Homo sapiens: one gene and its partners. The protein of the gene in region 3 purifies or fractionates together with the protein of the main gene of each other region. This does not show direct contact. Each region holds a gene or a part of one and is shown on either strand. Other genes may lie near its edges. The genes, in order: SERPINB12, DSG1 and HRNR.

Region 1 (3,656 bases), on a different chromosome or scaffold from region 3:
GCCATTCAGTGATATATTACATGTGTAAAGTACCAAATGCAGCTTGACATTTAGTAAGTGCTCAAGAAATTCTCATCCCCTTGTTAGTGATTTATCAAGCTACCTTAATGTTTAGCTACATTTAGTGTCAGATTTCATCTTCGCTCATTGAGCAATCGCACCACACCAAATTTTTAGGCTTGTAGGGCACAGTCATCTGTAGTTAGATCTTTGTTGAATTATTTAAGAGGATAAACAGATGCAAATCTAGATTAAAGACATTCAAACAAGTTTATACTCTTCTCAGGTACCCAGAAGCCCAGTGAAATTTGAATATTATCCCCCAACAGTAACAGATGTGACACCTACTTCCAGGAAGCCAGGCAAGAACTCATCCTGTTCTGAATATGAATGGTATACCCTTTTGGAAAGGCTATGATGGGCAACATGAAGTAGTAATCAATGACATAAAATATTAAATAATTCACGTGTTAAAATTTTCCAAACTCTTGCAAATCATAACCAATGACTAGACTGGTTTTTAGAATTTTGTGGAAGAATTTAGAAAAAAAAATAATTATTTTCAAATGATCAAGGAGTAAAGAAAACTAACAGCACGTTTCTTTTCTATGCTTACTATTGATAATTCAGAAAAACTCTGGATGCTTAGTCATTAATTTCCACTGGTCAATATCTTATAAAACTTGTTTTATTTATACACTAGCTACATAAGTAGTTTATATTTTCCATAAAGGCCATCTCTCCATTTTAGAAAGTTTTCCTTTGAATTTCTCTACACCTAATGTATTTGTAGGGTCATGGTTCAGATAATATTGTTGTCTGACAACAAGTTAGAAAAGGAAGATAAAGGGCTCAGTAGGAGAACCAGGTCAGAGAGGGGTCCTCGTTTGTCCTTAAGACATGTCAGTTCCTGGAGTTTGACTCTTCCTAGCTTTCTCCTAGTTGCTCCACACTTTTTGCCCTATCCACTGACCCTCATGTTTACAGTCAGTAACATAACACGATTGTAGAGTGCTAGAACCAAAAGTAACATCAGAACATGCTTTGGCTAAGTTTAAAAAGTTTTGTGTTTTCAGTTGTAAAATATGTGTGTCAATAATCAAATAATAATTCTCATCCCTACCACACACCTACTGCAGGAAAGCAAAAACTTTGAAGTAGCTTAGAGCACATTTTGCAAATCCTATGTAATAACTTAGAAAGATTTTAGAATAATGCAAAAATTCAAATATAAGAAATCATCTAAGACAATGTGTATATGAAGTAAAATACATTTCTGCTTCATGGTCTTCTAGTATAGAAATTTGAATTGAAAAGTGTGAGCCAAGTATTGCTTTGAGGGCTCTATAAAATTGGAAAGAGCAAAGAAAATATAAGCATATTAAGTTAAATATTCAATGTAGTTAAAAGCATAGCATTTGTTTTAAAAATATATGCCACTCTTTTCTTTTCCCTTTAATCTATCAATGATGATTTTACTCTGGATTCCAAAATGGCACTGGAAAAGTTCCACAGAGGGAGGGGCAAAGTTGATATATTTCCATTCCCGACAGGGTGTGGAGGGAAGCTTACCTGACCAGCTGTTAGCAGCAACTCTGAGGGCAAGAAGGTAAATGCTCGAATTGCCTGATATAATTTTTAACAATGAACACTGAATTGGAAAACCATTTTAAAGGATAGAAACCCAGAGGAGATGTGATTGAAATAGAAGGATATACTTGTTTTTATTAAGTCAAATACTTAAAAAAAGTGAGTTAGTTTTATGATGTTTTGGATTTTCTGCAGATGTGGCAGTCATCACTGGGAGATATTAACAATGCTTGTCACCTCGCTCAGCCCCAACCACCTGGTCAGATGCCTGATGTATATGATTGATTTTTTTAAAATGTAGATGTTTGAATAACTTTTTAAACTTTCACATACTTGACATATTGTATTTTATCTTTTAATGAATTATTTCTGAAACATAAGATGGTATAATATTTAGAATATCTATATTTTAAACAATGTGAGTTAGATTTTTTTTTTTTGCACCATAAGTTGGAAAACACTTTCGATGGTATTGTTCACAAGTATTTCTTTGTTTTTAGATATTGGTTATTATTTAGTTTGCTGTAACCTGGTTTGAATATTTGTTCCAGCAGAATAGCATCTATTTGTGTAAAGTTTGAATTTCATTCTTGAGTTGTTAGTAGCTTTGTGGGAATTATAGAAATTATAAGACATGAAATATTTTTGGAGTATAAATATTTTTCTTCCTACTATATATAGGAAAAAACAGTTTTACTCAGAATATTTTGGGTTGTTAGAATGTCTATCTTGTCTAAACCTTTACATTTTTACTATAAGGGAAAATTGTAATAAATGAACTTTTTCTTATACAGTAAATGAATTTTTTTTATATTGCAGTAAGTGAACTTTTTCTTATATAGTAAAAAATTAATAAAAAGCTGATTCTCTTATGCAGAATCTCTGTTAATTACAGCTTCCTGCAGGATATATAAAGTTAATATGAAATGCTAAATAGTCTTCTAACATTTCAAACATTAGGATTATCTACAATGAAAAATGGGCAGATGACAGCAAATCAATCCATAAATATTATGAAGGGTTCTCATGTGCTACCATTGTGTTCTTCACGGATGGGTACAAGGATGAATTAAAAACACTGAACCTACCTTCAAGACAATTATGATTTGGAAGTAAAGACATCAGTATAAAAAATAATTACCTTACAGTGTGATAGAGGAGTTAAGGGAAACAAATGTTGTATGGTTATTGTATACAGTGGTGACTAATTAACTCTTTAGAGGGAGAGGTTGGAGGAAAGTGGAAGAAGGTTTTACGTGTGTAACAAAGCCAGAAGGAAAGAAAACAAGCAAAATAGATCATTTGTTGATACCTCAAACACCATAAAAATGGAAAAAAATACCTTTAAAAAATTAAAAATGTTACACATTTCAGATAGTCAGTATTTAAAAATGTATCTTCAAAGCTAACAATGTAAGTTAAAATCTTACAGGAAAGATTTTCTTTCTTGTAAAAAATTGAAAGTAGATGAGGTTTTAAAATTAAGTTGAAAATACATTACCCTCAAGGTTTTGAAGTGATAGAAGAGAGTGCCAGAAAATATTGACAATTTTCAGTAAATAAGAGTAAAAACAATTCTATAATAACAATAAAGAAAATAAAGGAAGGTAAAACAGGGGAAATTTTTTTAAAGAACAAGTTTGAAAAACATAAAATGTTTATATAATATGAAGAGTTCATAATGATCCATAAATAAATGATCAAGACCTCAATAGATAATTGAAAGATGAACAAGAGACAGTTAATATGTGAGAATTTATAAAGAGAAAAGAACACATGGAGAAACATTCAAATGTTAGCAAGTATCAATGCCATGTAAATTTAAAAATAATACAATTTTCTTTTTATTTTTTAAGTTATTAAGAATGGCAATAATATCTGAAAAAGGTGATTATGATATAGCAGTTTCATCTGTAACTTTTGGCTGACAGTATGAAAGTTAAAAATCTTTATAATATTTGACCTAGAAATCCCATGTTGAAGAAGATACTCTGAAGAAATAATATGAAGGGAGATAAAAGCTATATTTATGACAATGTTTATCGTAGAATTATTCATATTAATAA
Region 2 (3,656 bases), on a different chromosome or scaffold from region 3:
AAATTGATTGCAAATGGGTGATTTACATTTTTGTTACAGTAGAGTATATCACCTTTCCAAAAAAGTGTTAGAGTTAGTTGATCCTTATGATGTGGACTTCACTGTCTTCCCTTTCTACTCCTTCAACATATGGATATCTTAGCTCTTTTCTATATCTTTGCCTAACAAGAAGATCACATTTTACTAGGAATCTAGACATTGTTGATAACTGGGAAACAAAGGAAATGTGTTATTCTGGCTTTCTATTTCTTCTTCTAGCATATTTTCTTCTTTTTTAAAGGATGCTGTGGCGAAACAAAATGATAATAAGGCCAGACCAACATTTTCCCAACTTTCTCAACACTTTCTAGCTATATGATCTTGGCCTCAATTTTTATATCTATAAATGGGGATGATATTACTGCCATCCTTACTGAATTCATGTGAGAATTAAATCATTAATAAGAGAAAACTATATAAAGTTCCTAATGAATAATGCACGTTTGATAAATATACATTACTACTGTTTTGTTTTGGGTGATCCTTCGTCAAGTGCAAGGTAATTAGTAGATCTAAAGAAATGCTTGCTTAACTACACATATTGTCCTGTCTCTTATCTTTTCATTAATTTTATAAGTAGTTTTGATGAAGATTATTAGATTATTGGAGAATGTGGAAAACTGCCAGTGCTCATTCATAACTTTGGAATTGTTCTCTACTCTCCAACTCCATTTTAAATACAATTTTCCTACAAATGCTTCATGGCATCTGTCATCCCCCACCTGTATTTATTGTAGCATAACCTTTAAAATGTTTTCACTAGATAATTAACATTTATATACACTTATGTAATTTATATAATTAAATTCCATGCAACTATTGAAAGCAGTGAAACAATTATGTGTCCTGATATGGAAATATGTTCAAAATATATTTATATAAAAATTCATGTTGTGGATTAGCATGTAACAGATGATACCATTTATGTTAAAAAACATGTGATTTATGTTTACATAATTATGGAGCGCATGTACACAGTGCATACCTCTGAAGAATGGTACTAGGAAATGCAGACAGCAGATTTTTGTTCCCTTTTACTTTCCATATTACATAAATTTAATGAGCATTTTATAATAACACTTTTAAAAGTTGAAAGTATAGGTACAGTATTTTAATGAATAAAAGTAAAGTGTAGGGATTTTTGGAATTCACAAGAAATTTTATCACTTAAAGGTTAAATCACAAAAAGAAGTTTTGTGTGGAAGTGATTTCTATAAGTGATTTTAAAGTAGCTAACTTTAAAAAAGGGGAAAAAACGCAGTAAGAGCAGAAAAGGGTGGGATTGTCCTTCTACACAGTTAGACTGGGAGGCTAAATTCACATCCCGATGCCTCTGCCACCATTGTGCAAAATGCCTTTAAAATTTCTTGTTAGGACTCTTCTACAGGGCTGGCCTGCGAGTTATGTGAGAAAAATCCTCCTCATTGCTTTGGAATCACGCCTTGTGTCCCTCAGTTTGGAGCTGCTTCCGTAGTTGAAAGGAAAGACTTGCTATTCTGCATCTTTTCTATAGTTTATCTCTTACATTCATGATGTGTACTTTGACATAGTTTAGTCTCCAGTTAGGTGCCTGGCTGTTAGGAGTGATTTGGAAGCCACTACATTACTTACTTGCATTAGAATTTTCTTCTATTTGTCCTGCAAATGTAGCCATTGAAAACACTGGAGGGTTGTCATTTATATCCAAAACCCTGACTCTGAGCTCTAGAGGCCTCTCTAAATCTTGGCCCATTGAGTTCAGAGCTCGGCAGTAGATCTGGGAGAGAAAAGATAAATAATTATACAGTGAAACACAGATTTATTAAGTTCTTACTTTGAGCATTATGCTAGCACTGTGGCGAATTAAAAGAATTATTATGTCTACTTAGAACATAGGCACAAGCCCTACTTACAGTCACTAAGGGAAAGCAAATGTGGCATTCTTAAGCTAGGTAGTAGCTACATGGGGGTTTATATTATTATTATGATTATTATTATTACTATTATTATTTGTATTTGAAGCGTCCCTAAGTGTAATGTGTACTATTTTACAAAATGGCATATTTCATATATAAAGGCATTATGATACTAGCCTGGGCAATATAATGAGACCCTGTCTCTAAAAAAAAATAAAGACGTAAAAAAATGCATTATGCCCCAAGAAAAGCTAACAGGGTAGCATGCCTTTTTAAAGTTTGTGGGGGATCATTGTGGGACAGAAGGGAGAAATAGAGATTTGGAATTGAAGGCTAAAGAATTAAAGTTGTGTGAGGAATACAGGCAGGCGGTGTGAGTGAAAACTGCAAATATCGATTATTATTTGAAGGTATTTTGGGATACGGACTGGTGGGGTTTTAATAGAAGAGGTAACAGGAGCAAAATAGGGTTTCTTTATTTCTATTTTTAATATTAAGAAGTGTTGGCCATGACGATAGAGAGAAATGGGAGTAGCCAAGGAGCCAGCAGAAGGGAGACAGAAAACAGAGGTGATGGAATGATTCTCCAAGTAAGTGGCAATTATAGGACCATGGAAATGTCTTGGAATATGCTGTGAGAAAAAGCAAACAATTGATCCTGCTTTTGATTTAATGAAGAACATTTCTGAGCTGGGCGAGTGAGAAATAATTATGGGAGTTTGTGATGGATGGCCTCAGCCTTTTTCATAAAGTTGGTCACAAGGTCAACTGCTTAAAGTGGAAATGAGGTTGAGGGTTTGAAGAGATAGGATACTTAAGCTATGTGACAGCTCCTGTAAAGAATGGAGTGAGATTCACTTAAGAATGGATGCATTTTCAAGGTGCATTTGGAGCTCAGGTGAGCTTGAGGAATATGAATTTATAGTAAAGTATATTTGCTCAGAAAACAGTCCTGCAGTAGCTCTAGAATCATTTACTTGTCATTAGACCTAAAATAAGGTAACATTCTTTACTGAATTTATAATAAAGTATATTTGCTCAGAAAACAGTCCTGCAGTAGCTCTAGAATCATTACTTGACATTAGACTTAAAATAAGGTAACATTCTTTACTGAATTTTTTAAAAAAGGAAAAATTAAAAAGTTAGGTAATTGTCCTTCCAAACAAATACTCTAGTTTGCCAATGAGGACAGTATAGAGGTTAGCATTTTTGCTGACACTTAAGTGAAACATTTCCTTCTCTCTTAATCTTTGCATTTCTTTTCAGTCGTGGGATGCTCGTGAATTAAGAAACAACCAAAAATGCCAAATATTGAGACTCTTGAAATCAAATTAAGTATGATCTGAGATTAAGAACTTCTGAGAAGAATTTAAGCATGAACATATATATTGACATGAAGTCCACTTACAATGAAGAAAGGAGTGACCTCTCGATCAACTATGGATGTTATATTAATTTCACCAGTTTTCTGATTAATGACAAAGATCCCATATGGTGGCTGATCAATTCCTACTCCAGAGATGCGGTATGTAACTTGCTGGTTTGCAGCACAATCTGAGTGAATCTGCAGAAGGAACACAAGTAAAAATATTAGAGGGAGCAAATAGAGTTCTATATTTGATATACGACAGCTTTCTTGAGAGTTGTTGCATGTGATGACCTTGTTATTTAGGAAATGTTGTCAATGGAGATTATTTTCCTAGATAAGAGTAACAATTACAG
Region 3 (3,656 bases):
GAACAAGAAGAAACTGAAAAAGAGGAGAACAAACGGCAAGAATCCTCTTTTAGTCATTCAAGTTGGAGTGCAGGAGAGAATGATTCCTATTCCAGAAACGTCAGAGGAAGTCTTAAACCTGGGACTGAATCCATATCCAGAAGACTGAGTTTTCAAAGAGACTTTTCTGGCCAACATAACTCCTACTCAGGTCAGTCTTCCAGCTATGGTGAGCAAAACTCCGACTCCCATCAGTCTTCAGGCCGCGGCCAATGTGGGTCTGGGTCAGGGCAGTCTCCCAACTATGGCCAACACGGCTCTGGCTCCGGACAGTCTTCCAGCAATGACACACATGGGTCTGGCTCAGGCCAGTCTTCTGGCTTTAGTCAACACAAGTCTAGCTCAGGGCAGTCCTCTGGTTACAGTCAGCATGGATCTGGCTCAGGTCACTCCTCTGGCTACGGACAACACGGCTCTAGGTCAGGACAGTCATCTAGGGGTGAACGACACAGATCTAGCTCAGGTTCGTCTTCCAGCTATGGTCAGCATGGGTCTGGTTCCCGTCAGTCTTTGGGCCACGGCCGACAAGGGTCTGGATCTCGCCAGTCTCCTAGCCACGTCCGACATGGGTCCGGTTCGGGGCACTCCTCCAGCCACGGCCAACACGGGTCTGGCTCAAGTTACTCTTACAGCCGTGGCCATTATGAGTCTGGCTCAGGCCAGACTTCTGGCTTTGGGCAACATGAGTCTGGCTCAGGACAGTCCTCTGGCTATAGTAAGCATGGTTCTGGCTCAGGTCACTCCTCTAGCCAGGGACAACATGGATCTACGTCAGGGCAGGCATCAAGCTCTGGCCAACATGGCTCCAGCTCACGTCAGTCTTCCAGCTATGGTCAGCATGAGTCTGCCTCCCGTCACTCTTCAGGCCGCGGCCAACACAGCTCTGGATCTGGCCAGTCTCCAGGCCACGGCCAGCGTGGGTCTGGGTCAGGGCAGTCTCCCAGCTCCGGCCAACATGGGACTGGCTTTGGTCGATCTTCCAGCAGTGGCCCATATGTGTCTGGTTCAGGCTACTCTTCTGGCTTTGGTCACCACGAGTCTAGCTCAGAGCATTCCTCTGGTTACACTCAGCATGGATCTGGCTCAGGTCACTCCTCCGGCCACGGACAACACGGCTCTAGGTCAGGACAGTCATCTAGGGGTGAACGACAAGGATCTAGTGCAGGTTCATCTTCCAGCTATGGTCAGCATGGGTCTGGCTCCCGTCAATCTTTGGGACACAGCCGACATGGGTCTGGATCTGGCCAGTCTCCTAGCCCTAGCCGTGGCCGACATGAGTCTGGTTCCAGGCAGTCTTCCAGCTATGGCCCACATGGGTATGGCTCAGGGAGGTCTTCAAGCCGTGGCCCATATGAGTCTGGCTCCGGTCACTCTTCTGGCTTAGGTCACCAAGAGTCTCGCTCAGGACAGTCCTCTGGCTACGGTCAACACGGATCTAGCTCGGGTCATTCCTCTACCCATGGGCAACATGGTTCTACATCAGGACAGTCATCGAGCTGTGGCCAACATGGAGCTACCTCAGGTCAGTCTTCCAGCCACGGTCAGCATGGCTCTGGCTCAAGTCAGTCTTCTCGCTATGGCCAACAGGGCTCTGGATCTGGCCAGTCTCCTAGTCGCGGCCGACATGGGTCCGATTTTGGGCACTCTTCCAGCTACGGCCAACATGGGTCTGGCTCCGGTTGGTCTTCAAGCAATGGCCCACATGGGTCTGTCTCAGGCCAGTCTTCCGGCTTTGGTCACAAGTCTGGCTCAGGGCAGTCCTCTGGTTACAGTCAGCATGGATCTGGCTCAAGTCACTCCTCCGGCTACAGAAAACACGGCTCTAGGTCAGGACAGTCATCTAGGAGTGAACAACACGGATCTAGCTCAGGTTTGTCTTCCAGCTATGGTCAGCATGGGTCGGGCTCCCATCAATCTTCGGGCCACGGCCGACAAGGGTCTGGATCTGGCCACTCTCCTAGCCGTGTCCGACATGGGTCCAGTTCAGGGCACTCCTCCAGCCACGGCCAACACGGGTCTGGCACAAGTTGTTCTTCCAGCTGTGGCCATTATGAGTCTGGCTCAGGCCAGGCTTCTGGTTTTGGGCAACACGAGTCTGGCTCAGGACAGGGCTATAGTCAGCATGGTTCTGCCTCAGGTCACTTCTCTAGCCAGGGACGACATGGATCTACGTCAGGGCAGTCATCAAGCTCCGGCCAACATGACTCTAGCTCAGGTCAATCTTCCAGCTATGGTCAGCATGAGTCTGCCTCCCATCACGCTTCGGGCCGCGGCCGACATGGCTCTGGATCTGGCCAGTCTCCAGGCCACGGCCAGCGTGGGTCTGGGTCAGGGCAGTCTCCCAGCTATGGCCGACATGGGTCTGGCTCCGGTCGGTCTTCCAGCAGTGGCCGACATGGGTCTGGCTCAGGCCAGTCTTCTGGCTTTGGTCACAAGTCTAGCTCAGGGCAGTCCTCTGGTTACACTCAGCATGGATCTGGCTCAGGTCACTCCTCCAGCTACGAACAACACGGCTCTAGGTCAGGACAGTCATCTAGGAGCGAACAACATGGATCTAGCTCAGGTTCGTCTTCCAGCTATGGTCAGCATGGGTCTGGCTCCCGTCAGTCTTTGGGCCACGGCCAACATGGGTCTGGATCTGGCCAGTCTCCTAGCCCTAGCCGTGGCCGACATGGGTCTGGTTCCGGGCAGTCTTCCAGCTATGGCCCATATAGGTCTGGCTCAGGGTGGTCTTCAAGCCGTGGCCCATATGAGTCTGGCTCCGGTCACTCTTCTGGCTTAGGTCACCGAGAGTCTCGCTCAGGACAGTCCTCTGGCTACGGTCAACATGGATCTAGCTCAGGTCATTCCTCTACCCATGGGCAACACGGTTCTACATCAGGACAGTCATCGAGCTGTGGCCAACATGGAGCTAGCTCAGGTCAGTCTTCCAGCCACGGTCAGCATGGCTCTGGCTCAAGTCAGTCTTCTGGCTATGGCCGACAGGGCTCTGGATCTGGCCAGTCTCCAGGCCACGGCCAGCGTGGGTCTGGGTCAAGGCAGTCTCCCAGCTACGGCCGACATGGGTCTGGCTCCGGTCGGTCTTCCAGCAGTGGCCAACATGGGTCTGGCTTAGGCGAGTCTTCTGGCTTTGGTCACCACGAGTCTAGCTCAGGGCAGTCCTCTAGTTACAGTCAGCATGGGTCTGGCTCAGGTCACTCCTCTGGCTACGGACAACACGGCTCTAGATCAGGACAGTCATCTAGGGGTGAACGACACGGATCTAGCTCAGGTTCGTCTTCCCACTATGGTCAGCATGGGTCTGGCTCCCGTCAGTCTTCGGGCCACGGCCGACAAGGGTCTGGATCTGGCCATTCCCCTAGCCGCGGCCGACATGGGTCCGGTTTGGGGCACTCCTCCAGCCACGGCCAACATGGGTCTGGCTCAGGTCGTTCTTCCAGCCGTGGCCCATATGAGTCTCGCTCGGGTCACTCTTCTGTCTTTGGTCAACATGAGTCTGGCTCAGGACATTCCTCTGCTTACAGTCAGCATGGTAGTGGCTCAGGGCACTTCTGTAGCCAAGGACAGCATGGTTCTACATCAGGACAGTCATCAACCTTTGACCAGGAGGGATCTAG

Evidence for each region.
Region 1: the proteins of HRNR (region 3) and SERPINB12 purify together in Homo sapiens (affinity purification with mass spectrometry, with the first as the bait; one large-scale study listed by BioGRID). This does not show direct contact.
Region 2: the proteins of HRNR (region 3) and DSG1 purify together in Homo sapiens (affinity purification with mass spectrometry, with the first as the bait; one large-scale study listed by BioGRID). This does not show direct contact.

Annotation. Positions count from the first base shown.
Region 1 is NC_000018.10:63,545,341-63,548,996, forward strand, and holds part of SERPINB12 (serpin B12), read left to right. Parts: intron 1-286; exon of another isoform or gene 287-390; coding exon of another isoform or gene 391-393; intron 394-1,560; exon of another isoform or gene 1,561-1,609; intron 1,610-3,656. UniProt on the Homo sapiens protein: Inhibits trypsin and plasmin, but not thrombin, coagulation factor Xa, or urokinase-type plasminogen activator. May play a role in cell differentiation.
Region 2 is NC_000018.10:31,328,031-31,331,686, reverse strand, and holds part of DSG1 (desmoglein-1 preproprotein), read right to left. Parts: intron 3,499-3,656; coding exon 3,343-3,498; intron 1,796-3,342; coding exon 1,651-1,795; intron 1-1,650. UniProt on the Homo sapiens protein: Component of intercellular desmosome junctions. Involved in the interaction of plaque proteins and intermediate filaments mediating cell-cell adhesion.
Region 3 is NC_000001.11:152,217,643-152,221,298, reverse strand, and holds part of HRNR (hornerin), read left to right. Parts: coding exon 1-3,656. UniProt on the Homo sapiens protein: Component of the epidermal cornified cell envelopes.